Homo sapiens: one gene and its partners. The protein of the gene in region 1 purifies or fractionates together with the protein of each later gene. This does not show direct contact. Each region holds a gene or a part of one and is shown on either strand. Other genes may lie near its edges. The genes, in order: IDI2, FAM76B, LMX1B and ISL2.

Region 1 (6,516 bases):
TTCATCATATCTTTGTGTTGGGAACATTCCAAATCCTCTGTTCTAGCCACATTGAAACATATAATACACTGTTGTTAACTACAGTCACCCTACTGTGCTATTGAACAGCTGATATTATTCCTTCTCTATCGCGGTATGTTTATACTTATTAACCACCCTCTCGTCATCCCTCCCCACTGCCCTTCGCAGCCTCTGGTGTCTAGCATTGTGTTTTCTGCCTCCATGAGATCAACTTCTTTAGAGCCCACATAGCAGTGAGAACATGTGATACTTGTTTTTCTGTGCCAGGTTTGTTCCACTTAACACAATGGCCTCCAGTTCCATCCATGTTGCTACAAATGACAGGATTTCATTCTTCTTTTTTTTTTTTTTTTTGAGACAGAGTCTTGCTCCATTGCCCAGGCTGGAGTGCAGTGGTGCAATCTCAGGTCACTGCCAGCTCTGCCTCCTGGGTTCATGCCATTCTCCTGCCTCAGCCTCCCGAGTAGCTTGGACTACAGGCACCTGCCACCACGCCCAGCTAATTTTTTTGTATTTTTAGTAGAGACGGGGTTTCACCATGTTAGCCAGGGTGGTCTCGATCTTCTGACCTCGTGATCCGCCCACTTCAGCCTCCCAAAGTGCTGAGATTACAGGCGTGAGCCACCGCACCCGGCCCGATTTCATTCTTCTTTTGTGGTGGAATGGTATGCCACTGTGTATCTAACCCTCATGTTTTCAACCCTTCAAACCTCCACGGACACAGGTTGATCTCATATCTTGGCTGTCGTAAATGGTGCTCAGCACCCAGGAATGCTGCGATATCTCTCTGATAGACTGATCTCTTTTATTTTGGATATTTGCCCTGGTAGTGGGATTTCTGGGTCATCTGGTAGATCTATTTTTAGTTTCCCGAGTGTTCTAATCCGCTGAGATTCTGAAACGTTGTGTTTGGGCATCCAGCAGTCCCCTTTGCCCTGCCCAGGTGCCACAATCACAGGCTTTTCTACGAGAAACAGACTGAGGACAAAAAGCACGAAGGACAATCGTACAGACTCCAGGCATGCACTCACACAAATGGCACTTACCTTTGCAGGGCTGCTGCACCGAGCCTTCAGCGTTGTCTTGTTTAACACCAAGAATCGAATCCTGATACAGCAGAGGTCGGACACGAAAGTCACGTTTCCTGGTGAGTCCGTTCAACCAAGCCCCGGACTGAAGAGAGCATCTCATGTGACTTGACCGGAGGAATCTGGGACAGGAACTCTCTGGTGCTCAGTGCCGCACTGTGGTGAGCTGGCAGCTCATCCTGCAGAAAATCGGCAGCTTAGGCAGATGCTAATTATGCTGATAGCTCTTCAGTAGGCTGGGTTTTCTTTTTTAAAAAAGTAAGAAACTATATGAGTTTCTGGGTTTTTTTGTTTTGTTGTTTCTTTGCAACGGCAAGTTACTTAAATGCAGAGGAATTTATCAACCTAAGGATTTAGGGGATTAAAATAGCATTTAGCATAAAATTAACTAGGTAATAATAATAAAAATTATCTTACAGGTCTTAGAGTTTTAATTATCTTGTACTTCTTAAAATTACAACTTAAAATTTTTTTTTTTTTTTGGAGATGGAGTCTGGCTCAGTCACCCAGGCTGGAGTGCAGTGGCGCCATCTCGGCTCACTGCAAGCCCCGCCTCCTGGGTTCACGCCATTGTCCTGCCTCAGCCTCCCAAGTAGCTGGGACTACAGGCGCCCGCCACCACACCCGGGTAACGTTTTGTATTTTTAGTAGAGACGGGGTTTCACCGTGTTAGCCAGGATGGTCTCGATCTCCTGACCTCGTGATATGCCTGTCTTGGCCTTCCAAAGTGCTGGGATTATAGGCGTGAGCCACCGGGCCCGGCCAAAAAATTTTTTAGAGGGGAACAGCATTTACGTCAATTGTGGTCATTTAAAGTGTTTTGGCCTAGGCTGTCCTCAAATTTTCAAAACCAGACCTTGCCTGAGCCATTAAAGCGAATGGCTAAGCACGGCCAGCTGTGGCCGAGGTTTTCTCCTCCCTTAGTTCTTCCTCGGAGCCGCAGTGGGTACATCCTGCCCATTCCCAAACCCACCACCATACTTGCTGGTCAAGTTGTACTCACGGGCTCCTTGATGGAGCTGAATGCAAAGTTTGTTTCAGAAAAATTCAGGAGCTGCAAAGTTAAGAGGGTCAACTGTAGTACATAGTCAACAGTTTGCAAATAAAGCCCCTGGAGCTAAGATTTCCTATCATGTGTTAGCCGCCTCCAGGATACATAGGGGCAGGTGGGAGTACCAGCTCTTGTACTTGCAAGAGTGGATTCAACTTCAGCCAAACTCCTTGCAGAGTGACCGAAGGAAGCACTGAGGGTCTGAGGAACGAGAGGGAACAGAGATTTACTGAGGAGAGTGTGACCTCCCGTCATAGCGCTATTGCTGTTACTTGGGTAAATTAAGTAGAACCTCTCAGTAAGGAAACTTGGTCAAAGGTATTCCAGCAGTCTTCCTGTGAAACCATGCTCACTGATCACCACCCTCAAAGTGCAGCCCAGCTTCCTCAGCCCAGCTGGTGCAGCCACCCAGCCCACAGCCCCACCACCTCCTCCCGCCACCCCATGGCATCTCAGGTCCTCTGTGGGTACAAAACTGAGTAGGAACCAGTCCCTCTCCTAAGACATACTGGGATAGTGCCACGGGACATGTGTGTGCACATCTGCAGGAAGGGCCGCAGGAGCGGTCAGGGCCAGCCCCGCCAGGTGGTCATGTGGAAGACCCTCACCAAGCCCACAGCCGTGGAGGCTGGAGGCGAGTGCTGCTCTGAGAGCCCATGACAAACCCACTCCCCCCGCCAGGCTGTCTTCTGCTGATGACGGATGATGGTTTTACATGAAGCATCTGCATTTGTATTTAATATATTCACTTTTCAGGAATAAAGAGGGATGTTCCCACATGCATTTTTTCCAGGGTATTTTACCGACTCCTGTAGTAGCCACCCATTATACAACCCAGCAGAACTGGAAGAAAAGGATGCCATCGGAGTGAGGAGGGCAGCCCAGAGGCGTCTGCAAGCAGAGCTGGGAATTCCTGGGGAGCAGGTACACACAGCATCCAGTCTCAGCTGTGTCCACGGGAGTCCAGGTTGGCAGCGGGCAGACGGTGAACAAAGTCCAGGCTGGATCTACACCATTGACCTCATGAAGCACCATGAGGATGAAGGATGGGGCTGTGGATGGGGCTGTGAATGAGCTGTGAATGGGGCTGTGAATGGGGCTGTGAATGTAGCTGTGGATGGGGCAGTGTGAGTCCCTATGTGTCCCAGGCAGGGTTGAGACTGTGCAGGAATCTGTCGACCACACACCGAAGAGGAAATTCAAGCCGGGCGTGGTGGCTCACGCCTGTAATCCCATCACTTTGGGAGGCCGAGGCGGGCGGATCACAAGGTCAAGAAATCAAGACCATCCTGGCCAACATGGTGAAACCCCGTCTCTATTAAAAGTACAAAAATTAGCTGGGCGTAGTGGCACACGCCTGTAATCCCAGCTACTTGGGAGTCAGAGGTTGCAGTGAGCCGGGATTGTGCCACTGCACTCCAGCCTGGCGACAGAGCGAGACTCCATCTCAAAAAAAAAAAAAAGAAAGAAATTCAAGTGTAGAAAGAATGTCCAGGATCCTGTGAGCATGTGTTACCTTCATCCACTCAAGAACACGTTTAAGAGAGGATGGATGTTCTCCTGACAACGCTAGCCGGTTTCTACGGGGTTTTCTGTTGAGGATGTGTGTGTGACACGGTTAGTTCTTTAAATGAAGACAGACAGGTTTACTGGAACCAAGAAACCAAAGCCGGTTTATCATTCAGACTTGAGTCCACAAAAATTTACTTAGCTAAAATCGAGGTTTTGGAAATTATCAATTACCAAAGAAAGTGTTCATTTTCTGAGGAAAACAAATGTGTTTATTTTCTCTATTTTTCTGTAAATTCTGTGTTTTACATTAGCGTTGTTAACACTGCACCAATTTCTGTCAATAGATTTCTCCAGAGGACATTGTGTTCATGACAATCTATCACCACAAGGCAAAATCAGACAGAATTTGGGGAGAGCATGAAATTTGTTACCTTCTGCTTGTGAGGAAAAACGTCACTCTGAACCCGGATCCCAGTGAAACGAAAAGCATCCTCTACCTGTCCCAGGAGGAGCTGTGGGAGCTGCTGGAGAGGGAGGCGAGGGGTGAAGTCAAAGTCACCCCCTGGCTAAGAACCATTGCCGAGAGGTTTCTGTACCGGTGGTGGCCTCACCTGGATGACGTGACCCCGTTTGTGGAGCTTCACAAAATACACAGAGTGTGAGAGGCAGGGAGGTCGAGTCAGCCATGTGTAATGCCCTCAGTGCAGGCAGACGCACCATTGAGGCAATGATACACCCTCTCCAAAAAACAGGGCAAAAGGGGCACTTGATTGCCCATCATGTATAAATCACTATTTCAACCTTTTCATCAACTTTGTCATATCTTCATTTTCCCTTTTCCTTATTTCCATATTTCTCATCTGCCTGGTTGCAGGGAGGAAATTTAACATTTCCTTTGTCCCAATTTCCATTTTATAAGCACTTGTTTGATTAACAGCAGCTGATCCTGAAAGTCTTGGGGAGATCTTGAGAGTCCTGAAGCAGGCGGACTAGCCTGGCTGGACCATGAGGCTGTCTCCCCACAGCTTTATCCAAGCCTCCAAGGTCAGGATGGGATCTCTGTATCATGTTTTTCTTTTTAAATCACTTATTTCAGAGTGCAACACAAGGCTGCATTTTTAAAAAAAAGACACATTCAATCTTGCATCCTAATACAAGCAGTACGGAAGATGCGTATGGTCTCAGCCAAGTGACTCGACGTTTATCCACTTCTGTTCATTTGATCGTTTCAGTAATATGCTTACAAATAAAGACATACTTGCTTTAAAACATACTGTTGTTGTTTAACACAAAGTAAACTATATGTTAAGTTTTGGTGTTTAATACGGAGAAAGAATTTCAAAAACCAGACCTGGTATTTTTTTTTTTTTTTTGAGATGGAGTCTCGCTGTCGACCAGGCTGGAGTGCAGTGGTGCGATCTTGGCTCACTGCAAGCTCCGCCTCCCGGGTTCAAGCCATTCTCCTGCCTCAGCCTCCCAAGTAGTTGGGACTACAGGCGCCCGCCACCACACCCAGCTAATTTTTTGTATTTTTAGTAGAGACGGGGTTTCACCGTGTTAGCCAGGATGGTCTCGATCTCCTGACCTCGTGATCCGCCTGCCTCGGCCTCCCAAAGTGCTGGGATTACAGGCATGAGCTGCCGCGCCCGGCCATACTGTTGTTGTTTAACACAAAGTAAACTATATGTTAAGTTTTGGTGTTTAATACGGAGAAAGAATTTCAAAAACCAGACCTGGTATTTTTTTTTTTTTTTTCACACGGAGTCTCTCTCTGTCACCCAGGCTGGAGTGCAGTGGCACGATCTCGGCTCACTGCAACCTCCGCCTCTGGGCTCAAGCAATTCTCCTGCCTTAGCCTCCCGAGCAGCTAGGATTACAGATGCCCACCACCACGCATGGCTAATTTTTGTATTTTTAGTAGAGATGGGGTTTCACCATGTTGGCCAGGCTGGTCTCGAACTCCTGACCTCCTGATCTGCCCACCTCGGCCTCCCAAAGTGCTGGAACTACAGGCTTGAGCCCCTGCGCCCAGCCCAGCCCTGGTAAATTTTTAAAATTGCCACATGTAATCCAGAAGTGTGATTAACTAAAGTCCTTTCCTCAGCTATAATGTTGATTGTGTGACTTGATAACTTATCCGTGGTGGCTCTTGGACCCCTGTGTGTCTTTGGAGCTCCAGGAGCACACGGACCCCTGGGCAGGTCCCTCCGACCCCACAGCTCTTCACCCCAACGCTCCCCAGCAGGTGCTTTTGAGGTGGCATTGGCGGTGTTTTTGTGTTTTACTGAACATGTAACTTCAGGGACGGGCCACAGAAATAGGAGAATGCCCATATTTAATTGCCTAATGCCTCCAGCAACATTTTACTCCCCCAAAAGTATTTTTGCTTTAAAACAAAATAGAAATGTCATGTTGTTTGCCTTTTTATTTGGCCAAATCCATAGCGACTATAACTAAACCAAAACATGAGCTAAGTAAATGAAAACTACTTTCTTCTGGAGGTTTATTTTGGATAAAATAGTTGAAGACAGACTACAATGAGACATTGTAAAATAAGACTAGAAAATAATTTAAGAGCGTATTTTAAGCACGGGATTCCGACACACTCATAAACGTGTTTGCTCCCAGCTCTTACAAAAGAAAATAAGGTTTTTCTCCATCAAAAACAACCTAGTTAAACCAGTAAATCTTCCCAGTTCTGAAAATCTGAAGCAACTGATACTCCATTAAATGTGGAAACACTGTCTACTCAAAATATTTGTAATATTATGCAGTGACAAAAATTTCCCACACCTATATAGGGTTAACCATAGTTTTCAGCAAAGCAACAAGTGCTTTACTTAT
Region 2 (6,396 bases), on another chromosome or scaffold:
TCAAAAATTAACAACTCACACCCAATCCTGTTTCATTTATATTCTCGTATCTCCCTCCCTATACTATTTTGAAGCAAATACCAATCATCATACCATTTCATTATAAATATTTTAGTAGGTGTCTCTAGGACTCTAAAAAGATAGCTGCAACACCATCATCACATCTGAAAAGTTAACAGTACTTAATTCCTTAAAATCATTACATAACCAGTGTTCAAATTTTCAGTTCTCATACATGTTAAAAATTTTTAATTTCTTGATTCCAGATCCATATCAGGGTCACATATTGTGACTGGTTTATATTAAGTACCTTTTATACTATAGGTTCTCCCTCCACTGATTCCCTCTGCTTGCAACTTATTGAACAACTGTGCCAACTGTATCCTTTTGGTGTCACTCAACATGATCTTCCATCCTTTCTATTTTTGGTTAATTGGTAGATGCTTCGTCAGATTTAGGTTTGATTCTTTTTGGCAAAACTTTATAGGTAGCAGTGTATTCCTCCATCAGAAAGCACTTAAGAATGTGTTTGTGTATTGTCAGTAGCTGCTGATGACCAATCCTTAACTCCATGAGAGGTTGCAAAATAGTGATGTTGCAATTCCATCCTTCCTTTTTCATTAGAATGTTTTAAAGAGAAACTACCCCCCATCTACTACTTACCTACCCAATGGTATAGTTTGTATGGGAAATGCAGGGAATATTAAAATGATAGTTCTCAAAATGTGAGCTCTGGGCCAGAAGCAGCATTACCTGAGAACTGAGAACTGAAAATTCTTAGGCTCCATCCCAGACCCACTGAATCAGAAAACTGGGGATAAGGTCCAGCAACATGTGTTTATCATGCCCTCCAGGTAACTCTGATGTATACTAACGTTTGAGAAACAAGGGACTACACCTGAAGTCTTGAAATGCCCTTGCTAAAAGCTGTTAGCTTTTACTACACTTTATAATACCAAAGTTAGGTTCCAGATTTTTTCCCAAGCACAGTATCTGCCCACCTAGTCTACAAATGAAAGAATCACACCTTCAACTTTTAACTTATCAAACAATCTAGCATGGTACTAGTCATGTTCCAAAGCTTTCAAAAACTTAACTATAGCTTGAAATACTTGCTCAATTAGATGCAAATTTATTTCTTCCAGGAAAAATAACTATTGCACTAAAGTGGTCTGAATGGACAGACAGGAAAATAGTTTCTAATGTTTGGCCTAAACTTCTCTCATGTATCTGTTGTTTCAGGGTTTCATACTGGAAAAAGGGGGTAAAATGTAGATGAAGCTATGTAGGCTCAATAATGGTCCCCCAATATGTCCATGCCCGAACCCTTGGAACCAGTGAATACATTACCTTATATGACAATAGGGACTTTGCAGATGTGACTAGGTTAAGAACTCGAGATGGAAAAACTACGTTGTTTGTGCAGGTGGAGCCAATAATGTTCTCATAAGGTCCTTATGAGAGGGAACAGAGGGAGACACTCTGAGAAGGTATGATGACAGCAGCAGAGAGAGATTTGAGATGCTACAATTTGGGCTTTGAAGATAAAGGTCAATGAGCTCATAGCATGCAAGGAATGCAGCTCTAGAAGCTGGAAAAGGCAAGAAAACAGATTTTCCCCTACAGCCTCCAGAAAGAAGCAATCCTGCCAATACCTTGACTTTAGACCAGTAAACCTGATTTTGGACTTCTGGCCTCCAGAACCATAAAAGAATTAATTTTTGTTGTATTAAGACACTAAGTGTGTGGGAGTTTGTTACAGCAGCCATTGAAAACTAATACAAAGCCTTTGACAAGTTTTTTATTGTGAAATATTGGATCTAGAAAAAAGTACAAAATGTCAACAGTCAGATGTGTACAAGTACAGTATTTCAATAGTCTATACATGTGAACAGCTTAACAGGTTCACTGCAGAATGCATATTTAGACCAATATAATCTAAAAAGGACTGCAATATTCACAGGCTATTAATACATAAATAACTTGAGTCAAAATGACCCTTACTGGTAAATGCTAATTAATAGTGGAAAACAGGCTAAAAGCACAATACACCACACCATAGTATCTCCTTACAGGTCCACATTTAAAGAATATCAGTTTATTATGTCAAAACACTACAGAGATCCAGGACTGGGACTGAATTACTAATTTATACAATTGCAAAAAAATTTAAGTTATAAAATAAGGTCATGGAATAAAGAAGGGTATTTAATTAGGACTAAATACTGTGAAGCCCATGAAAGGGTTTTAGCCTTGGAATTTACAAAGCTAAATTATTAGACTGTTAATGTTAGCTAACACTAAAACTGAATTACCTTCCATTTTAATGTTAGCTAATATTAATATTCAACTTTTTAATTTTGATGTTAGCTAAGGGGAAGGACGAGGACAACTTTCTTTTGTAGTTTCTCCAACAAGGTGTAAGAACTATCAAAAAGTAAAACCATAATGACCACTGTGGACTGACAAATGGCTATGAAACAAGAATATAAAACATTACAAATTTCAAAGAAAGGTAATAACTATCTTATGAATTTAGCAAATCCTGCAAACGTTAAAATCCATGTTAAGGCATTATCTATCATGGTTGAGAGTACTAAATTTAAGAAAATTATTACATGAAGATCCCATAAAAATAAACTGGTTTAGTTTACAAGATTCTAACTGAATCTTTTTGTATCACTTGAAAATTACCCTATATTATGCTTTCAAAATGGACAAAGAATTATTTGGTATTCACTTTATAATGAACTATGAGAACAGTCTATTGAAACACGTCATGTTAAAAAAAAATTGTTTCAATCATGTGTTCTTAAGAAAGCCAATCTTTGATATGACATTCACAATCAATGCTTGTATAAAACAAAACCTTTAAAACTTATAAATTTAGTAACAGTTTTACATGAAGCAAATTTATCTTTGCCCATAAATTATTAAGAGAAGCAACTCACTCTATACAGTGTATCTAGCAATACTTTAAAATCAAACTAAAACTCTGAACTGATAATAACTAGGAGATAAATTCTATTTCAGGCTGAAAACCGCTGGATCAGAATATAGTCAATAACTTCATATAACCTATCCCACCCTACCTTAACCTTTTATAGACAATTTTAAAGACTTTAGGACAATTTACTTATAATGCCTGAATCTTATAGTAGATTCCAATTTATTCAAAGATTATCACAGATTGGATTAAAAAGATCATTTAATTTTTTTCAGATTTGCTTTAAATTTACAAATTACATTGTACATAAATATTAACTTAGATAACCACACATAGGGAAAGCAGATACATGGATCATTGCAGAAACATTAAAATTTTTAAAAAATTTTATAAAATATAAAGCAAAACATGTAACTCACACAATACTAATATGAAGCCACATGACATAAAAAATAAAATTACTCTTTAAGAAGCAACTTAAAATTAAATCTTTGGGGAACTATTTTGACATAATTAAATGAATTCAAAGACCAACAGCTTCCCTTATCACACAGAAACAAATCACAAAATTTTCTACAATCTATATGCATTATCAGTTAGTTCTAAATGTAATCTCAAACATTTTACTAGCAACTTTGATTTCCTTTTGAAATAGGCTTCTGTACATATGCATTTATATACAAACATTTATTAAACATGATTTTAAAACAAAATGTATGTACAAAAGATCAGCATTCCTATAAATAAAAACATTAGGTGGCAAAAAGGCACTTGTAAGTAAAAATCTACAGTAGTTTTTACAAAACAGAAACACATTTTACCTTAGATACTGTACAATAAACATTAATTCCTATACCAATAATGAAAATGCTAGGTTACTAATGTTAATGATGTAACTTTAAAAAACAAATTTACATATATCTGAAGTTCATTTAATAAAAGCACCGTGATTTTCTCCTAAATTCATCTTGATGCAAAGTAAAAACACAATTCCCAAAAAACCAGTGTTCGCCATTTTTCGAGTTTAAAAGTTTTTGTATTTCTAAATTGAAAACTGTTTGTCTGAAATTAGCATAGTGTAAAACAAAAACAAAACAAAAAAACCCTGCTGCTCTGACTTCTGAAACCATACCTACTCTATTATTGCATGTTGCGTTTCATAAAGAGCACTACTCATGCACTCCTTTACAACTGTTTAATACTATTGCTGGCAAAAAAGTTCCTGGATATCAAATAATTAAAAAGTTACTTCAAACCAGTTGAAGTTTTATTTGAATGTTTTACAACTTAAAAAATGCTGTATATCAATTACAAAAGTGAACAGGAAACACACCAATTCATTTGGTGTGCAAAAATATTTTTCTACTACACAGAATTTAAGGGCTTCACAGAATTTTTTTTCCCCAAATTTACATTGTAAGAAGAAATGCTAAACAAATGACTTTCTCAAGGAGATGTTAGTATGCTTCCACTTTTGTCAAATTTTTTACCCTTTGATAATGCTGCGACCTGTTTGAGTAGTTCTCTGTTTTTGGCCTGTGGGAGACAAAAACATTCAAGATTAAAAATGTTTGAAATATTATTAAGTCATGCTGAAGAATACTACTTATTTAATACTGTTTTCATTTATATAAATGTTTCACTAAAGCACTAACATTAAATGAAAGAGTTGATACCTTTACATTCATCTCTTTAAGGATGAACATGCAGAAGGAAAATTCTAGATTGGCTCATCAGCCCCCTTTGTATATGTCATTATTAATATAATTGTGTCCAAAGATGCACAATTGGTTACAAAAAAGGAAACAAAGTGAATCCACTTAAAAGAAGGTCCAAATTTTAATAGGGAAAAGGTGTTTGGCCCTTCATCTTAAAAACATGAAAACTATGAAAATAAGTTGTAATTTACAATTAATAAAATCAAAGAATGAATCAAGATTTGGGAGGAGTATTTCCTGGCAAGCTGTATAAGGTCTTTTTTCTATGTTTACTCTCTTGTAGAACAAGCATAAGAGGTCATTTTTGCAAAAACAACTCAGAATTTGTTACTTTGCCAAATGCACCCAATGATATTCAATTTTTTTTAAAGCACCCATCAGAACCACTCATTATCTTGTTGTTCCTTTAGTTACCAGTCATCTGACACTGATTTTAGTGTGGTTTGAGCAGTTCCACATCATCATTTCCTATCTCATGAAAGCTTGAATTTTTACAAAGATTCAAAATTTCATTTCATCATCTGACTTGAATTTCATTATTAAATGTCCATCCATCACTAGTTTAGTGAAGAGGAATGTGTAAGTACAGTGAATATTTTCACATTTTGACTGCCTTTGTCACCTTATTCAGTCTCTTAAATATGAAAACTTAGATAGTAAGGATCCCTATATATACAAATACATTAATGATCAAGCATTTTTGTAGTTTGAGCCAAAATGGGGAAAGTGATGAAAATAGAGCACTGCCCTAAAATTAACACATTTTAAAAAGATATCCTCTGACTTATGTTTCAACACCATTTTCCTTCACAGGTTCCAGGAATTTTTATTATATAGACAGACTTTTTTAATCTCAGTACTTCATATTTTATTCTAATTTTAGCTTTTTACGGGCAGATAACACTCTGCCTTCTCTGTATGCCATCTTAAAGTGGTTTCATGAAATAACCTTTTTCAAACTTTATTCTTCCATTCCCCCACCCTTCTTCTCCAATCACTCTTGCTAATTAACACCCATGACCTCTAAAATGCAAATATTCTCAGTACTATCTTATATGTGCAAATCAAATAATTTTTTATGTTCAGATGCATGATCAATAGAACTTTCCTATTCAGTGGTTATTAATAACTAAGGTGGTAACGAAAAACTTCAATTTCAAATTCAGTATCAATTTCAAATTTTGAGTCTGCAAATTTGACTCAAAAAGATCTCCACTAGATCTGTTAAGTTATATTTATCTAAAAATGTTTATACTGATACAAAATAGTTAAAATGTGAATCTCCAAGTTCTTATCTCAATTATCAAGAAATAAAGTGTTTATAATTTTCATATTTTAAGTACAAAATACAATAATTTGAACATTAGGTCTTCAAAGCAATTTTTCCATTTAATGCTTTGGTAGCTAATTTCCAATTTGCTTTTAATATATTTATATCACTAATAAAGATATTTCTTAATAAATTACATAAGACAAAAGTCTTTATGGTAAATAAATAACACAATTGTTAAGTACAAGTCCAAATTATTCTAATTTGAATACTTTAAAAATGAATTTTATGCCATATTTCAATATATGTACATTTAAATTGTTTTATCCTAAAATTACTTCATTTTGCAGCCAGCCAAAAAAAAAAAAAAAAATCAATGAAATTCTTTACAGACTCTTAAGAAAGCTAAGTTTTAAAGTTTAGACATGTTGGTGCAAAGGAAAGAATATCAGGATTAAGAA
Region 3 (7,000 bases), on another chromosome or scaffold:
GAACCGCCGAGAGGTGGGCCTGGAGGGGTGCGCGGGTGGAGGCCGCTGAAAGCCGCCCCATCCGCGTGTCCGGACGTCGAAGGAAGCTCTCCCGCCCAGGGGAAGGCAATTATTCTAACCTTTTTCTTCCGCTGGCCAGGGCTGGCCCTACAGGGGGCAATCCGCGCAGAGGAGGTCAGTGACACCCTGCTCCCAGCCCTCGGGTAGCGACTCCCCCTCCCCACCCCTCCCAGGCTGGGCGTTCTGGGGGAGATTAGCAACAATGTAGAGCCCGCACCTTCCGGAAGGTCGGTATAGGAGGACTTAGAGAACCCATCCGGCTTTGGGAGTTGGACCCGCCTGGGGGGGAAATCTGCTACAGGGTAACTCTGGGCCGGGAAAAATCTGCTACAGAGTTAACTCTGGGCCTGGGGAAGTTGTTCAAGCTGCTCAGCCTCAGTTTCCTCCCCTAACCACAGGGTTGGGACGGTACAGACAGTGAACTTCACAGGGGCTCAACAAACGCCAATGCCTTGCCCTTCTAGAGGCACTACTGCAGGCTGCCTCCCTGTTCAGTAAGGCGCTGCTCCTGCAAGTTCACATCTACACTGACCATGCTCAGGAGTCTCTTGGAAAAAATGGGACCTACGTGTCTCAGTAGTAATGAGGGCCCATCCACAGGCTGGCCTTGGCTCCGAGGAGCAGCCTCTGGCATCCAGACCGGCCCCATGCCCTTTTCAAGGGAAAAAAAATAAAAATAAAAACACAGGCTCCCAACCTGGGTGAGGAACAGAAGGGTGGGCAAGACCCCTCTGGGAGGCCTGTTCAGGAGGCTGCACTTTCTGGGCCTCCCACGCAGGACAGACAATGCATTCCTGCCAGACGGGGCTGCCTTCGGCTCATTTCCCAGCAGGAAGGAAGAAAACATACATTGACTGCATGCCCAACACTGGCTGGCATCTGGGTTTGTTCCACTTTATTCTCAGAGCAACCCTGTAAGATTGGAATTACTACCCCCTTTTCACAGAGAAGGGAACTGAGGCTCAGGAAGAGCTGTCAGTCCTTCCCTAAAGGCCCTTGGCCTTTGTCACTGGGAGATGGAGACATTCTGGATCCCCATTCTGTAACTGCCAACAAGCTTGCTCTTCCTTTGAGAAAATGTGCCCCACCCAGGACCCCTCCATTTGGAGGAGGTCACCCCAGAGCACCTTGATCCTCTGGAACCCCAAAGGCCTGGGCAGCTCAGTCCTGGTCTGGCGCCCACACCCAACAGCCCAGTAACTATAGCAATCCAGGAATCACACGACAAGAGTCACAGAGTCCCCTTGGAAGGCAGGAGGCGGGAGAAGGGGGAACAGCAGTCACACCCAACTTGTCCCATCCCAACCCAGTGCTGCTCCTCCCCTCCCGTCACCGCTGCTGAAGTTCCTGGGGAGGCGCTTGGGGGAGGGACCCCTGGCGGCCCTGTGTCTCAGCATGCTCAGCTCATCTTCAGCTACCCAGCAGCTCGGTGGCCTCCTCATTCCTGCCAGCCCCAGTGGGCATCGCTGTTGCTCTGGGTGGCCGTCACAACCTTCCCCAGCTAGCCACCTCCCCACAGTTCCCGGGGAAGCCTCTCTCACAGCACTGGCCCGGCCAGGAAGCAAACATCTTTGTTTCTTCTGGAACCAGGCTCCAGGAACCGGGTTTTTCCTTCAGCAACACTTCCCCCCAGTTCACCAAGTGCCAAGGCCAGCCAGGTGCTCTGCCATCAGCCAGGACATTCGTCCAGGGCTGGTCCGAGCCAAGCTCCCAATTGAGACAAAGCCTCCCCACAAATGTACCCACACATCCCCAGATCCCCAGCCCCTCATCCTCCCTTTGGGGCCCCAAGGTCAGCAGGGCAGGTCCAGCGGCTGCCAGTCAAAATGCTGAGCAGAAATGGATACAATATTATCCAGGGAATAACAAAGGAAGGGCCCACGCAGAAATTTATTTGTACTGATCAGGCAAAGCAAAGGTAAAGGGCAGAGAGGAAGTGCTGTCAGCCGGCCTGAAACCCAAGAAAGTTGCCATTCCGAGCACAGTGGCCCCTTATGCCCCACCACTCCTCACCGCAGCAGTAGTTAAAGCAAACACAAGCCCTTCACTGCCCCGTCAGTTACACCTTCCCCCCAAAATTACACAAACTTTGAAACATTTTTCTGAGAGAAGATGGATGCTTCAGGAGACTTGAGGTCAAGGCTAGGCTGTTTAAAGTCTATTATCAACAAATAAACATTTACTGCAAAAAAAAAAAAAAAAAAAAAAAAAAGAAGAGAGAGAGAGAGAAAAACCCTATAGGCCACCGGGGAACCAAATCATGTTGCTTTTGGCATCAAATGACAGGAGACATTTATGACATGAATGGAGAACACCAGCCGGTCGATGAAATGGCAAACGTCTGCCACTTTGCTTCCTCTACCTTCGTGAATCAACTTTTTCAAATATGGTTTTCAGCCTTAGCCCTCTCTCACTACCACCGTCTCTCCACTTCTGACTGCAGTGGTAATAAATATATATAATTTTGGTTTTGCTCTTTGCTGCCATCAGCACAGAATCTGGTTGGAGAGGGCCAGAGGAACTTCCGGCTGGGTCAGCCAGACAGCCAAGGGCCCTGGGTCCTCGGGCACCCCCAACTGACTGACAGCTCACACGCGGCTCCTTGGATGAGTAGACTATCCCTCCCTTCCTCCCTCCCCTGGCTGAGGCTTGACTGTGGTGTCCAACAAATTGGAAGTTATAACTCATGTCGGTGAGAGTATCCTCCATCCTTCAGCCTAACTGATGCCAAAGTAGGACTGGTTTTTTTCCTCTTCCTTTTCTTTATTTTTTAGAAACTCCAGAGCCTCAGGACAAAGGCGGCTCCTTGGAGAAGCATCGCCAGCCACCCATGGGTGGAAACCTCACAAGGCCACAGAGCCCGAGCTGGAGGGGCCTTCTGAGTTCCTGGAATGGTGTTTCTCCACCTTTTAAACCTCATCTTCCTTCTGAGAAATAGACAAATCCCCCAGACCTCTCCTCCACCTACCCCCTTCTCCATTGGCTGAGCTTTATTTTCTGTGGCTTCAATCACAAAACAGTAAGTACAAACAGTTCTTCAAATATGAATTATTAAGCTTTTCCAAGCTATATGGAGGCCCTGGAGATGCCAATTGTTTCCCGGTGGAAATACTGTTGCTCTGGACCACCCTCTGTTTGCCACCAAAGGAAAAAGAGCCAGCACACCCGGCCACCCTCCGTCTGCCCCCAAGGAGAAAGAGCACAGGACACCCGGCCACCCTCCGTCTGCCCCCAGGGAGAAAGAGCACAGCACACCCGTCTGCCCCCAAAGGAGAAAGAGCCCAGCACAGCTGGCCACCCTGTTGTGGCCCTTTCTGATAATGCAGTTGGCACCTGTGCGCACCCACACAATCAGGTTTTCCACCTCTCTTGAGGTGCAGGAGAGGATAATGGATCCCCCGGAGAATGGAATATTTATTAAAGTTCCACCAGGTGCCTGTGTAATCCTCACAACCACCCTGCAAAGTCACATCATCACCCCCAGTTTGTTGATGAGGCCCCAGCTCAGAGATGGGCAACCACTTAGCGAAGATCACACAGCTGCTAAGACTTGGGGCTGGGAGGTGAACTCAGGTCTGACTCCGAGTCTAAAGCTCTTTTCATGGCTGAGGAAGGCAAGACTTTTACAGTGTCCTACGAAGGGAAAGGCAATGGCTTCCCCAGGGTGCTCCTCATCCTCCCTGCATGGAGAGGCTCATGGTAAACCCTGTGTACCATGGAACCTGGGTAGAGAACCTGTTGGCAGTGTGGTGTGTGTCCTTGGAGACAAGGTATTCCCTGCCATGCTCATGGTGAGAAGAGTAACAGCAATAACTTCCAGAGTATTAATAACAAGCCAGGCAAGATGCCAGGTCCTTTGGGGCACCTTATCTCAAGTCCTTATAAGAATACTTGCCCCCAGCAGAATAAGTCCCCATTTCACAGAGGAGGATCAGGTAGGTGCCACGGCCGTGGGTCTCTAAGCCTGGCTCCAATGGACAGGGCAGGAAAGAGCTGACAGTCACCAATCACATACCCCAGAGGAGATCCTCCCAGCCTGCTTCCCCCACTCAAGAAAAATAGGGCAAACAAATAAGGCCACACCAGCCCAGCGCCCGGGGAGTCGAGGGTGAGCCAGGAGTCACTGTGAATAATGCCTCCGTTCAGCAGCAGGGGACTGCAGCCTCAGGAAGGCCTGTGCTTACCGTCTTGCACACAGCCAAGGTGCCGGGGTTAAATGGAGAGGTACCCTCCAAAGGGCCAGAGGGTCCCCAGACTTGGGCTGCCAGGGTGAGCCCTTTGGGCCTCAGCCCCCAGAGACAGCACCATAGAAGCCTTTTTGTAAGGCAAAGTCCTGGCTCCTCCTCCCAAGCAGTTTCCAGGACAGGCGCTCTGCAGCCCTGAATGAGTTTGATGGTTGGGGCAGGGGGGCTCGCTGGTTGGGGTACACACTGGGGAAGGGGTGCTGCTTGAGACTGGCACCCTGCAGGAGGGCCTATGGGAGGCCTTCCAGGCTGGCAGAAGAAGTAGCCAGAGAAGGCCGGAGCCTGACTGCTCTCCCCCTGGGCCACACCCGAACGCGGGAGCTGGATGGGGAGTGTGGGGGGAGAGGTGAGCCTCCCAAGAAGGTCTTTCCCGGGGTAAACACTTCCAAGGAAAGGAATGCGCAGGGCAGAGCGGTTGGGCCACTGGAGCCACAGCCAGCTGGGGGAAATTTTTTAAAAACTCACCCCAGGACTCAAGAGGGCTTTCTGTGAAACTCAATCAAAGCCTCGATGCTCCCCTGCTGCCAACGTAGGCACATCCTACCTGGACAGGCGAGCCCAAAGGGCCCCCAGCGGGCCCGGCGGAGCCCTGAAGTCTGTGTCGCCGAGAGGCTCGGCCGCCCGGGCAGGCCCTGCGGGCGGAAGGACGCCGCGGCCCCGCCGCCGAGGTAGGAGCGCGGCCCGGGCCGGAACCCCGCGTCTCGCCGTGCACAAAGGCGCCCGCTTGCACCCCAGCGGGTCTCGGGTCGCCAAACCTGGGAGCTGTCTTACAAGCGATTAGACTCCATTTTGTGACAGATTTTTGGACTCTCCCACCGACCCTCCCCCCTTCCGGAGCCTCCTCCAGGAATTCTCCACCTCTTCAGGATAAAAACCCTTTCCAGACGAGCGACAGACGGCAAGAAAAGAGAGTTACATAATTCTATTCGGCCAAGCCGCCAAGATAAAAACATGGGAGGGGGGAAAGTGCCTTATTTTTCATTTGTTCTCCGGTGGAGGACGGTGAGAGGTGTTCTGATTTGGGGGAGGCTGCGTTTCCTCTCCGTTTCCTAACTGGTTTTCTGTCCGAAAAGGCTGCTTTTTCTTTTTTTTGAAGGAGCCCCCAAAACTCACACATGGGGAAAAAGGAGACTTTTGGAGTTAAGAGTGAAAATGCCCAAACTCCACGGCCGGCGCTCTGCTCTGCCCGCCAAGGATGTACAAGAGGATTTTTATCAAATTCGGCTCAATGTGCCCCAGTGTCAATTAATCACCCCCGTGGTGCGTAAGACAACTTGGCACTTCTGGGTGTCTGGGATCTTTGAGAACAAATCGAAAGGAAGAAGAGACATTTACTAAAAATGGCAACCTCTTTTTAAGGACGGAGCCCTGCAACTCAGCCAGGGGTGAGGACACATTTTTCAGAAGTTGTGTTTGGTGGGGGGATTGTTAATTTCTCAATACCGCTGACGCACAGACTCGACAATATCAAGAAGGCACGTTTCTGCGCCCGCTTGCTTGGATTCCTGTCTGAAAAGCATTTACGCACAGATGAAATAAATATGCATCTGCAATTCTCAAAGAAAAAAAGAAATGTGAATAAAAAAATTTTTATTGTGCAAAGAACATCCCTTTCCAGTGGCTGCTGCCTGCCTGGAGCGGCGCTCCATCTCCCTGTGAAACGACTCACTGGCTATTTGTCCTGATAACAATCACCCCACCCCCCACCCCCCACCCCCAGCACATCCTGCCGGCCGGCCTAACGCAGATACCTAATTGGCGTTATTGGAAAAAATAGAATGAGGGTGGAGGAATGAACTGTCCACAGCTAGAATAATGCACTCCCCACCCCAGGCTTCAGCCCCACAGGATCCAGACTGAGTGAGGTCTTCGGACCTGAGATTCGCCCTGTGCCAAAAATCATTCTCAACACACCGGACTGCACTGAAGAAGCTGGCTGTTAGGTGACTCTTTCCTTTTCTTTTTAAAACAAATATACTTTGGACAAAGCAGTAGCAAATGCTTAACGTTTAATTGTTTTGTAAGATGAGGGGGTGAGCCGCTCATCTCTAAGGCAACATCCAGCTGAAATTTCGTGACTTTACCATTCTGTGCCTGAAGAACCAGGGGTTATCCTTTCCTTTTTTTTTTTAAAGAGAAGCTCCGTAAATAATTATGGGGAGTGGGGGGAGGGCAGAATATGTACACGCGATTCATAAGTCTTTTCAATATATTAACAAGTTTTTTTCTTTTTTTTAAGCTGTGCAAATGATTTGGAGGCCGGTTTTAGTTTCCTGGGCCCCCTTCCCCCATGTGTTGTCGTAAAGGCTGGTGGCTGAGCTGGGTGTAAGTGGCACTGCCAGAGCTCGGGATCAGGCAAGCAGAGTGAGGCCAGGGGTGCAGGGCGTGGTGGGGAGGGGGCTAGAGGCTGGTGCACCCTACAGAGGGGCTCCTCTAGCCAGCCCAGAGCCCACAGCCACATCTACCCCAAACTATTTTCCCCATTCAATTTGTGCTGCTCTATGCTTGGGCTGTGACTGAACGGACTGGCGTCTCCCTCTCCCGGAACTAGAATCATATTAGTTCAGAGCACAGCACAAAGCCGACCTACGGCAGTGTGCCTAAATCTGGGGTGCTTCCTACTGAGAGGAAGGCCTCAGCTGCACTCTGGGACCAGCAAAACAGCTGAACCTCTGAATGGACTCCAATCCCTACCC
Region 4 (8,987 bases), on another chromosome or scaffold:
GCTCGCCCAGAAAAGGGCACGCAGATACCGCGGCGGAAGCGCAGCCCCCACCCGACTCGAGCCTCCGGCCCAGCGGCTGCTCACCGTCTTGTCGCTGTGCTGCTGCTGCTGCAGCTGCTTCATGAGAATGGATTTCTTCTTGTCCTTGCAGCGCTTGTTCTGGAACCAGACGCGGATGACCCGCGGGCTCAGGCCGGTCATCTCCACCAGCTGCTCCTTCATGAGAGCGTCGGGCCGCGGGTTGGCGGCGTAGCAGGTCCGCAGAGTGTGCAGCTGCTTCTCGTTCAGCACAGTCCGCACGCGGGTCGTCTTCTCCGTCTGCTTGTGCACGTGCGGGCGCAACGCGGGCTGCCGGCCCGACCCAGCGTCTGCCAGGACAGGGTGAGGCCAGAGGTTAGCGAGGGGCCGCCACCCACCCGCCCCGAGCCCAACCTCCGGGTGGCCCAGCCCCCCGGGGCCCGATTTCGTTTCTGTTTTATTCTGTTTGTTTCGTTTAATTGTTCGTCTTCCTCTCCATCTGTTCGCCTTACTCGGAGAGAGCTGTGCATTTTCGTTCTTTCTCTCGCTCCCGGGCCGGACTGCCCCGCAGCGATCTCTCCCGAGCTCAAGCAGGGCGCGGGAGCTCGGCGACAGGCCGCTGCGGGGAGGGAGTGGCTGCTCAGGGATGTGCCTCCTCCAGTCGCAGGACCCTCGGAACGAGCGAAGCCCTCCGGAAGAAGTCGGAGTTTCAGAGGAAGAGGAAAGAGGCTTGCCCAGGACTCTGGAGAGGGAAAGGGACCGACGTGGACCCAGGGCGAGGCGCTGCCCAGGGGACTGGGTGGGAGGTGCGAATATGCCGGGGGCCTACGAGGGCCCTTCCCCTCCTTCAGAGCCCATTTGGACAGGGCCAGGCCACATGTGTAGAAGACTCATCCACGGTTATGGACGGGCCTCCAGGGCTTGCAACAGTTCCTTCCTGCCCGCCCTTGGGCTTCGGCCCCTGTCTCCTTCCTCAAGGCTCCAGGTTCCCCAGCCCAGTGGCCTCCCACCGACCAAGGTGCTGAGCAGCCGCTGGCACTCTCCTCGCTTGGCCCCAGGTTCTCTCCATCCCGGGGAAACAGTGACTGATTCCAGAGCCTGCACCCTGAAGCCCGAAACAAACAAAGGGGAGCCTCTCCGAGATCCCAGATGGGGGTGCACTGAATACCCGCTTGCTCCCATTTCACATCTCCATTTGATCCCGACCCATATATACCGTGGATCTGTACTGCACCATTTCGGTTTATGTTCCCCTCTACGAATTTCTAGGTCTGGACAAATATTTACAAATAGCCCATCCAGCCCAGTTTCCTCTTTCTATAGGGAGGAAGTGAAGATCCAGAGAGGGGAGGAGCGGGGCAAGGCCACACAGCACCCAGAGGCCCAGCCTGGTCTACGGATCTGTGCTGCAGGCCTATGGCTACCTGGGGGAAACTGCCTTGCCTGGGGTGGAGGCACCTCTGTTTCTGTTCAGCCGTACCTGCCCATTATACACTCAGACCCCATCTCTGGGCAGCTGCTGATTAGGACCCAGAATATTCCAGTGACAGTCCACTATGCATTGATACTCCCCCTCCCCCAGAAGAACCTGGCTAAATTGTTCATCAAACTGGGCCTCAAAACAAGATGGCAAAAACCCCTCTTTGTTGGGTTCTTGGCTCCTGGCTGACCAAGCTCCTGCCCAGCTCCCAGTTTGGAGCTGTGTTACTTACACACATACCCCTGGGCAAACCTTACCCTCTGACAATAACACATATTCCTCCAAGAAATTCCTAATACAAGCCCCAAGACGGACACCACTTAAGATTCCCTGTTGTCATCCACTCTTCTGCTCCTAGCACTGTGCCCTGCATGTTCCTGGTCATGGAGAACACGATTCTGCACAATTCTCCGTGCTCACACACTCATACACACGCAGTTTCTCCCGAGCACACGAGAATACACACAGCCTTGTTCCCAGCACACAGTTCCGCACTGATACAGAAAAACACTATCCCGGCAGACGGAACCACACACAACTGACAACTTCTCGTTAGGGACACAAGCGTACCCCTACACACACGCACGCACATACACCCCGCTCACCCCGGCACAGGCCCCGGCGCGCTTACCGGGCAGATGCAGGCCGCGGGCGCCGGGAAGCGGGCCGGGGCTGCGCGGGCTGCCGGCCGCGGCGCGCTCGAGCAGGAGGCCGTGGTCGGCGCGGCAGAGCAGCTCGTGCTCCCGCAGCGAGAACTCGTCCCCAGGCAGCAGCTGGCGGCTGCACACGGAGCAGCGGAAGCACTCGATGTGGTACACGCTGTCCCGCGCCCTCATCACCAGGTCGCTGCTGCTGAAGCCCACCTGGCACTTGGCGCACTTGATGCCGAACAGCCTGCGGGCCCAAGGTGCGGCGGTGTCAGCGCTGGGCCTGCGGCCGCCCTCATCTCCCTGGCTGCTACGGCTCCGGCGCGCGCCCAGGACACTTTGTGGCCACCAGGAGACTGCGGTGACCCGCCTGCGGGCATTCCCGGGCCCGGGGGAGCGCTGCGGCACCCGTGCGGGATGCGGATGGCCTTCTCCCTGGGCAGGGCCGGGGCGCGCGGGCAGGCCGCCATCCCCAGTCCCGGCCCCGGCCCCTGCGCGCGGTGGCCCAGCCCGCGTTCCCGCCGGCCTCACCTGACATAGTCCCGCTTGCAGTAGGTCTTCCCGTCTCTCACGAAGCACGTGCACGTCTCGTCCAGGTACTGGCTGCACTCGGCACACTTGAGGCAGGCCGCGTGCCACTCGAGGTCGGGCGACACCCGCAGGATAAACTGGTCGTGGATCTGACTCCCGCAGCCCACGCACATGGCCGTCCCGGGCTTCTCTGCCGGGGAAGGGCGCGGGGCCGCGTCAGGCCTGACTGCCCGGACCCAGGCCGGCCTCGGCTACTCCAGCCCCAACCCAACCCGCTCGCTCTCTTGCTCTTTCTTTCAAGACTTGCGACCATAAGGAAAGATGATGAGCTCTCTAAAGGTCCAGGGCATTGGAAACGAAAAACCAGTATCTTGTGGATTGCTGAAGGTTTCTTCTGTCCCCCACCCCAAATATTTCGTTATTACATTCATTAATGACAGTCGTTTTGTCGACGTGTCTTGAAACTAAACGCAAACACGAAACTAAGAAGAGAGTAAATACACAGGCACTGCGGACGCCTGGATATCAACACCTAACGGTGCTGTCCTGGCATTTCCGCTCACACACTCCCACTCACAGCGGCTGCCTCCTATCCCAACACAGACACATCGTCTTTCGGCAGTCCCCGCTCATCCTCTCAGACATTTCTTAGTTTAAATATCCCAGAGCAAGCGAAAGAAAGCTTCCTAGCTTTGAAAAACCGAAAGGCAAACAAACAACAACCAAAAAAAAAAAAACCCACATCCCTAAATCAAACCTAATTGCCTTTGCGCAAAACAGAAGCAGATTTCGCAGCCCGAAGTCATCCTAGCCGGCTTGAGAAATAGTGTTTACTTATAAAATAAAACAACAGGATTCCCAAAGATAAGCAGTCCTGCAGGAGACATGCATTCGTTTTTCCTCTCCTAAACTATTCTGACAAATAGAAGCCACTTGTAGAATCCACTAAACATTTTTCTGCATTAGAAATTTTGCATATTAAGCATACACACACACCCCACCCCACACACACACAGAAATACTTACTCTTGGAATGATCACCCATAGCACCCAGAAAAGGATAATGAAAAATAATATCCACCATGCAGAAAAAGAGATGTGCGCAAAGTGTGCGGCCAGGGGCAGAAGGACGAGGGTCGCGCGCCCGGCCTCGGCTCTTTGCTAACTAACTCCTACTGCCCCGCGGAGTTGAAGGAGCGATTCCGCACCGGCCCGCACGCAGCATGACGTCAACACGCACTAGCCCCGGGCCGGAGCTGGGGGCGGGACCTGTGGCGTCACGAAGCTTCCCCAGAACTGCCGGGGATGCGGGGGAGGTGATGGGGATCCAGGGGCTGATGGGCGGGGTGGGTTGGGTTGGAGGCTGGGGGTGAAGGGAGATTGGCTGGGAGGAAGTGGGCCAACCCTGATTGGCCCGGAGTGAACAATGGAGTGCAGCCCCCCCACCTCCGAAACCTACAAGGATCCTCTCTCATGCCCCGGGCCTGGCAATCTGGACTGGACCTTGCGTCACCGCCGAGCTGGCTCCGCGGCCGTTACAACTCTGAGCTTCCTCTTGGACTTTCGGGGCGGTTTTCCCAGGCGCGCTGGAGCTGGGTGATGGATACCTGAGGGTGGAGATGGCTCTCCTTTAAGAGCTCCCTTCTTATATAAATTAAAAAAAAAAAAATTAAACCCACTCTCAGGACGAGAGAGCCGAGGACAAGGGGGATCCGTTTGGACGTGACCGTCATCGTCCAGCTGGTCACCTTTCTCCTCTCATGTGCCTTTGTTCTTCGGGTCCAAGCTAGAGAGAGTGTAGAGAATGACCACCTGGGTTCTGATAAACTCTATTTAGACTTTCCTATCCACACACACGTAGAAAACTTTAGATTGGGGCATTACGTGGGTTGAGCCAGAACCCAGATCCAAAAGCGCTCACCCGGGACTGGGACGGGTCCTGACTCCATCCTTGCTGCTGCTGCCGCTGCTGCTGCCCCTCCTCCCTCTCCTCCACCACCACCTCCTCCTCCTGCTCCACTTCCTTTTTTTTGTTGTTTTGTTTTGCTTTTAATTTGTTGCTGTTGTTGTTTTAAATGTAACATGGACTTCCCCGCCCCCTCATTTTTCCCCCATCCAAATGGCATAGCTCCTTTTAGGAACACTGCTGGGGTCGATTGCGTGTCCAACTTCCAAAATAAAAGATTTTTCTAAACTCTTGTCCTTCATTAACAAACCCACTGCAATGCAAATAATCAGAAACGAACGTAAGGCGCTGGGTAATTTACAGTGGTATCTGCGAGGCGGCGGCTCGTTGGTCCTGAGAAAATCTGAGAGCTCTGAGCACAGTCCAGGCATTCTTTCAAAGAAATCGCTGTGGGTTTTGTTTGAAAGGGTTCAAAGACCGGCCCATGAATTATAAATAACATTTATCCAACCATGGTGTCTGTTCTTGTTTTCCCATTAAAAGGAGTACCAAGAACTTGGTGTGCGCCTGGGTGGGGCGCGAGGTGAAACGCCTGCGGATAAAGTGTCTCCACCGCCATTCCAGACCCTGCCCAGACCTTCGGGCTTGTGGGCCTGAGGGCGCGGTCGCTACTGCCGTTCTACTAAGAGCATGAGGTTGGTTGGCGTCGAAACGGATGCAGCCGAGGGCGCAGGCCGAGGCTTTGCAGAAGGCTAGGGCGAGGCCCCGAGTGCACGCTAACATTATTCGACCATGGTCCACGGTGAACGTTCCTCACCGGCCCCGCGCTGGGGCGAGCGCTTTAAGCCTCGTCCAGTAGCGTCCGGCTTTTGAGCTCCGCCTCCACCTTTAGGAGGTCTAGTCTTCTCACCGGTCCGGCTTTTTTTTTTTTTTTTTTTTTTTTTTTTTTGAGATAGACTCTTGCTGTGCCGCCCAGGCTGGAGTGTAATGGTGCGATCTCGGCTCACTGCAACCTCCGCCTCCCGGGTTCAAGCGATTCTCCTGCCTCAGCCTCCTGAGTAGCTGAGATTGCAGGCGAGCGCCACCACGCCCCGCTAATTTTTGTATTTTTAGTAGAAACCGGGTTTCACCATGTTTGTCAGGCTGGTCTCGAACTCCTGACCTCGTGATCCGCCCACCTCGGCTTCCCACAGTGCTGGGATTACAGGCGTGAGCCACCGCGCCGGGCCACCGGACCGGCTCTTGTTACAGTTTACCACCCGTTGGCCAATAGGCCATTTCTTGCGTCTTTAGTCAACAGTCCCCCAAAGAGCGCTCACCCTGAGTGTGTGCGGGCAGGTCAGGGGTTGGGGGATGCTGCGTTTGAATGAATGTGTTTATGTAAATGGGGGACAAGAGCGAGGGGGTGGGTATCTGTGCCTGAGGCTGTGCCAGGACACCTGTGTGACCTCAGGCATCTTATTTTAATTCTCCTTCCCTCAGTTTCCTCATCTGTAAAATGGGGGTATAATAATTGTAGCTATCTCTATTACATAATAATTAAATAAACTGTTCTCTGGAAAGGGCTTAGAGCAATACCTAGCACAGAGTAAGTGCTCCATATGTGTTAATTATGACAGTTATGACTGTGGCTGTATCTTTATGTTGGGAGCCTCTGCCCACCCTGCCTGCGTGTGTCTGGATGGGGAGGGGAGGTCTAAGTATGTCTCAGTATGTGTCATCTGATGATTTCTTTGTGATTTCGATGTGTGCTTGCTGTGTGTGTGTCTGCTGTGTAGATGGGGTTTGGAGATGTGTGGTCTGTGCATAGACTTTGTGTACAGGTTATATCTGTGAATGTGGGTGCACAGTCAGAACTGGGAGGGGACTCGGTGTGTGTGTCTGCATGTGGAGTGAGGAGGTGCGTCTGGCCCAATGGCCCTACCCTTAGGTGACCCTGGACTAGGCCTGGCTCCCAGCACCTACTAGCTCTTGCTCGCCAGGCCAGGAGCAAGCACATCTATAATTCAGGGGTTCAGACAGCTGGCCAGGAGGGGGCAGCCCCAGGCTGGAATCGTAGTCCCAGCTTTTAACCGTCTCCTGCCCAGAGAAACTCTTCCTTCCCGTCCAGAAAAACCTGTCCTTTGAAACTTCACTAGGGAGGTGGGGATTGGAGAGGGTCACCCCTCCTGGGATGCTAGGAAGCCAGGTCAAAACAAATATTTGTTCAGGGCCACCATGTGCAAAGTCCTTGTTGTTAGCCTATTAGGTCTTAAAAGTAATGCCATGTGGTGAGTAGTATTGGGCCCCTCCAATCCTCGAGGAAACTGAGGCTCAGAGAGGGGAAGTTACTGCCTCAGGTCACAGGTTAAATCATTGCTGGCATTGAACCCAGGTCTATCTGGCTCCATCTTGCTTGCTTTTTTCACTGTGCCATTGAAGAGCCACATGAGTGTAGCTCCATCATTCACCCATTTCACATCTCTGGAGCTGTAAAACCAGGGATCCATTTCAAAATCACTCCATGTGTGACTTCTGGTCACAGCCACCCCTGAGAGACCAGCACTGACATGGGAGAAGAAAACACCTGCACCTGCTGGGCACGGCCACAGGCACCATTGATGTGGCCCTACCCTGGTTCTCTGCCTCCTGGCTGCTCCCTTCTCAGGTATGGAGGGGCCACACACTCTCCACATCCCAGGCTGGCATGCAGGAGACCTGGGTGCCTCCTATCCTGGGTCTTAGATCACTTTCTCCTTATCAGGAATGGCAGCTTGAGCTCCATAGCTATGCTTTATCCCATAAAACTAGCCTGTACTGGGGAGAGTTCAGAAGCACAGAGAAGTCTCCCTGATTATTTTCTCCCCAAAACCTCCTCTACCACATCACTTACAAAGGCACAGCCCCATGCACAATGTCCAGCCAACACAGAGGAAGCTGTTGCTAGTGTGGGAGCATCAGTCCTACTGTGAATATCAGGAAGGAAACTGAGGCCTGGTGACCTGTTACCCAGCATGTGATGGAGATGGAGCCGGAAGCCAGGTCCCCTAACCCAGGCCAGACCTCTTCCTGCTGGACTCCCTCTGGATGATCTTCTGCTGTCCAGGGCTGAGACCTTGCTGCCCAGCTTAAGTCACTGGACCAGGCTTCTCCTCTTGCTCCAGGCTCCATCCCCCTCCATTCTCCTTCTGCCCCACTCCCAAAGGCTTTTACTCTTCTCCAAAGGTAGTTGGAGATGTTGAATACAGCAGGCCAGAGACAGCCTCAGCATCCACATCTTCACCCACCACAGGCATCTGAGAACTTGCTTTTGAGATAGGGATGGAGCACCATGTTTCAAAGAAGAAACTAAGGCCTGGGGGCAGGAAGAAACTTGGCAAGTCAAGGTCAGGCTTCAGGCTTCCTGACATCCAAGACCCATGCTCTCTCCCCAGCTTTGCCTGCCTCCCCAACCCCAGATTCCCTTTGAGCAAACAGGTACCCACAGGCACTGCTGGGCCCCTCTCACTCCTTCCTGAGTCCCCTTCTCTCTTCCCTAAGTTACTGAGCACGTGCTGTAGCTGGGGCTCTGGGCTAAGCAGCCGTATGAGGTCTCATTAAAGTGCCCACCAATCTCCTGAGCAGGAATGGCCACATAATTTGCAGATCCCATTGCAAAATAAAAATGCACGACCCTTTGTTTAAAAAATTATTAAGAATTTCAGGCCGGGCGCGATGGCTCACACCTGTAATCCCAGCACTTTGGGAGGCCGAGGTGGGCAGATCACAAGGTCAGGAGATCGAGACCATCCTGGCTAACATGGTGAAACCCTGTCTCTACTAAAAATACAAAAAAATTAGCCGGGCGTGGTGGTGGGCGCCTGTAGTCCCAGCTACTCGGGAGGCTGAGGCAGGAGAATGGCGTGAATCTGGGAGGCGGAGCTTGCAGTGAGCCGAGATTGCGCCACTGAACTCGAGCCTGGGCGACACAGCGAGACTCAGTCTCAAAAAAAAAAAAAAAAAAAGGGAGGGGGGAGGGATAGCATTAGGAGATATACCTAATGTTAAATGACGAGTTAATGGGTGCAGCACACCAACATGGCACATGTATACATATGTAACTAACCTGCACGTTGTGCACATGTACCCTAAAACTTAAAGTATAATTTAAAAAAAGTTTGAGTATTTATGTATGTGTATGTGCATGTACATGCACAGAAAAAAATCTTGAAATATAATCATCAAAATTTTCAAAAAAAAAATTTCAATGGCCAGGGGCAGTGGCTCACACCCATTATCCCAGCACTTTGGGAGGCCGAGGCAGGTGGATCAATTGAGGTCAGGAGTTTGAGACCAGCCTGGCCAACATGGCAAAACCCTGTCTGTACTAAAAATACAAAATTTAGCCAGGTGTGGTGGCGCATGCCTGTAGTCCCAGCTACTCGGG

What was found.
Region 2: the proteins of IDI2 (region 1) and FAM76B purify together in Homo sapiens (affinity purification with mass spectrometry; 3 studies listed by BioGRID and IntAct, with this or other methods). This does not show direct contact.
Region 3: the proteins of IDI2 (region 1) and LMX1B purify together in Homo sapiens (affinity purification with mass spectrometry; 3 studies listed by BioGRID and IntAct, with this or other methods). This does not show direct contact.
Region 4: the proteins of IDI2 (region 1) and ISL2 purify together in Homo sapiens (affinity purification with mass spectrometry; 2 studies listed by BioGRID and IntAct, with this or other methods). This does not show direct contact.

Annotation. Positions count from the first base shown.
Region 1 is NC_000010.11:1,017,335-1,023,850, reverse strand, and holds the end of IDI2 (isopentenyl-diphosphate delta-isomerase 2), read left to right. Parts: intron 1-1,067; exon of another isoform or gene 1,068-1,075; coding exon 1,076-1,168; exon of another isoform or gene 1,169-1,214; intron 1,215-2,953; coding exon 2,954-3,084; intron 3,085-3,918; exon of another isoform or gene 3,919-4,016; coding exon 4,017-4,334; 3' UTR 4,335-4,941; downstream 4,942-6,516. UniProt on the Homo sapiens protein: Catalyzes the 1,3-allylic rearrangement of the homoallylic substrate isopentenyl (IPP) to its highly electrophilic allylic isomer, dimethylallyl diphosphate (DMAPP).
Region 2 is NC_000011.10:95,767,168-95,773,563, forward strand, and holds the end of FAM76B (protein FAM76B), read right to left. Parts: intron 4,484-6,396; coding exon 4,394-4,483; 3' UTR 1,786-4,393; downstream 1-1,785. UniProt on the Homo sapiens protein: Negatively regulates the NF-kappa-B-mediated inflammatory pathway by preventing the translocation of HNRNPA2B1 from the nucleus to the cytoplasm.
Region 3 is NC_000009.12:126,616,928-126,623,927, reverse strand, and holds part of LMX1B (LIM homeobox transcription factor 1-beta), read right to left. Parts: intron 1-7,000. UniProt on the Homo sapiens protein: Transcription factor involved in the regulation of podocyte-expressed genes. Essential for the specification of dorsal limb fate at both the zeugopodal and autopodal levels.
Region 4 is NC_000015.10:76,331,657-76,340,643, reverse strand, and holds the start of ISL2 (insulin gene enhancer protein ISL-2), read right to left. Parts: upstream 3,872-8,987; 5' UTR 3,761-3,871; coding exon 3,703-3,760; intron 2,867-3,702; coding exon 2,677-2,866; intron 2,393-2,676; coding exon 2,130-2,392; intron 369-2,129; coding exon 85-368; intron 1-84. UniProt on the Homo sapiens protein: Transcriptional factor that defines subclasses of motoneurons that segregate into columns in the spinal cord and select distinct axon pathways.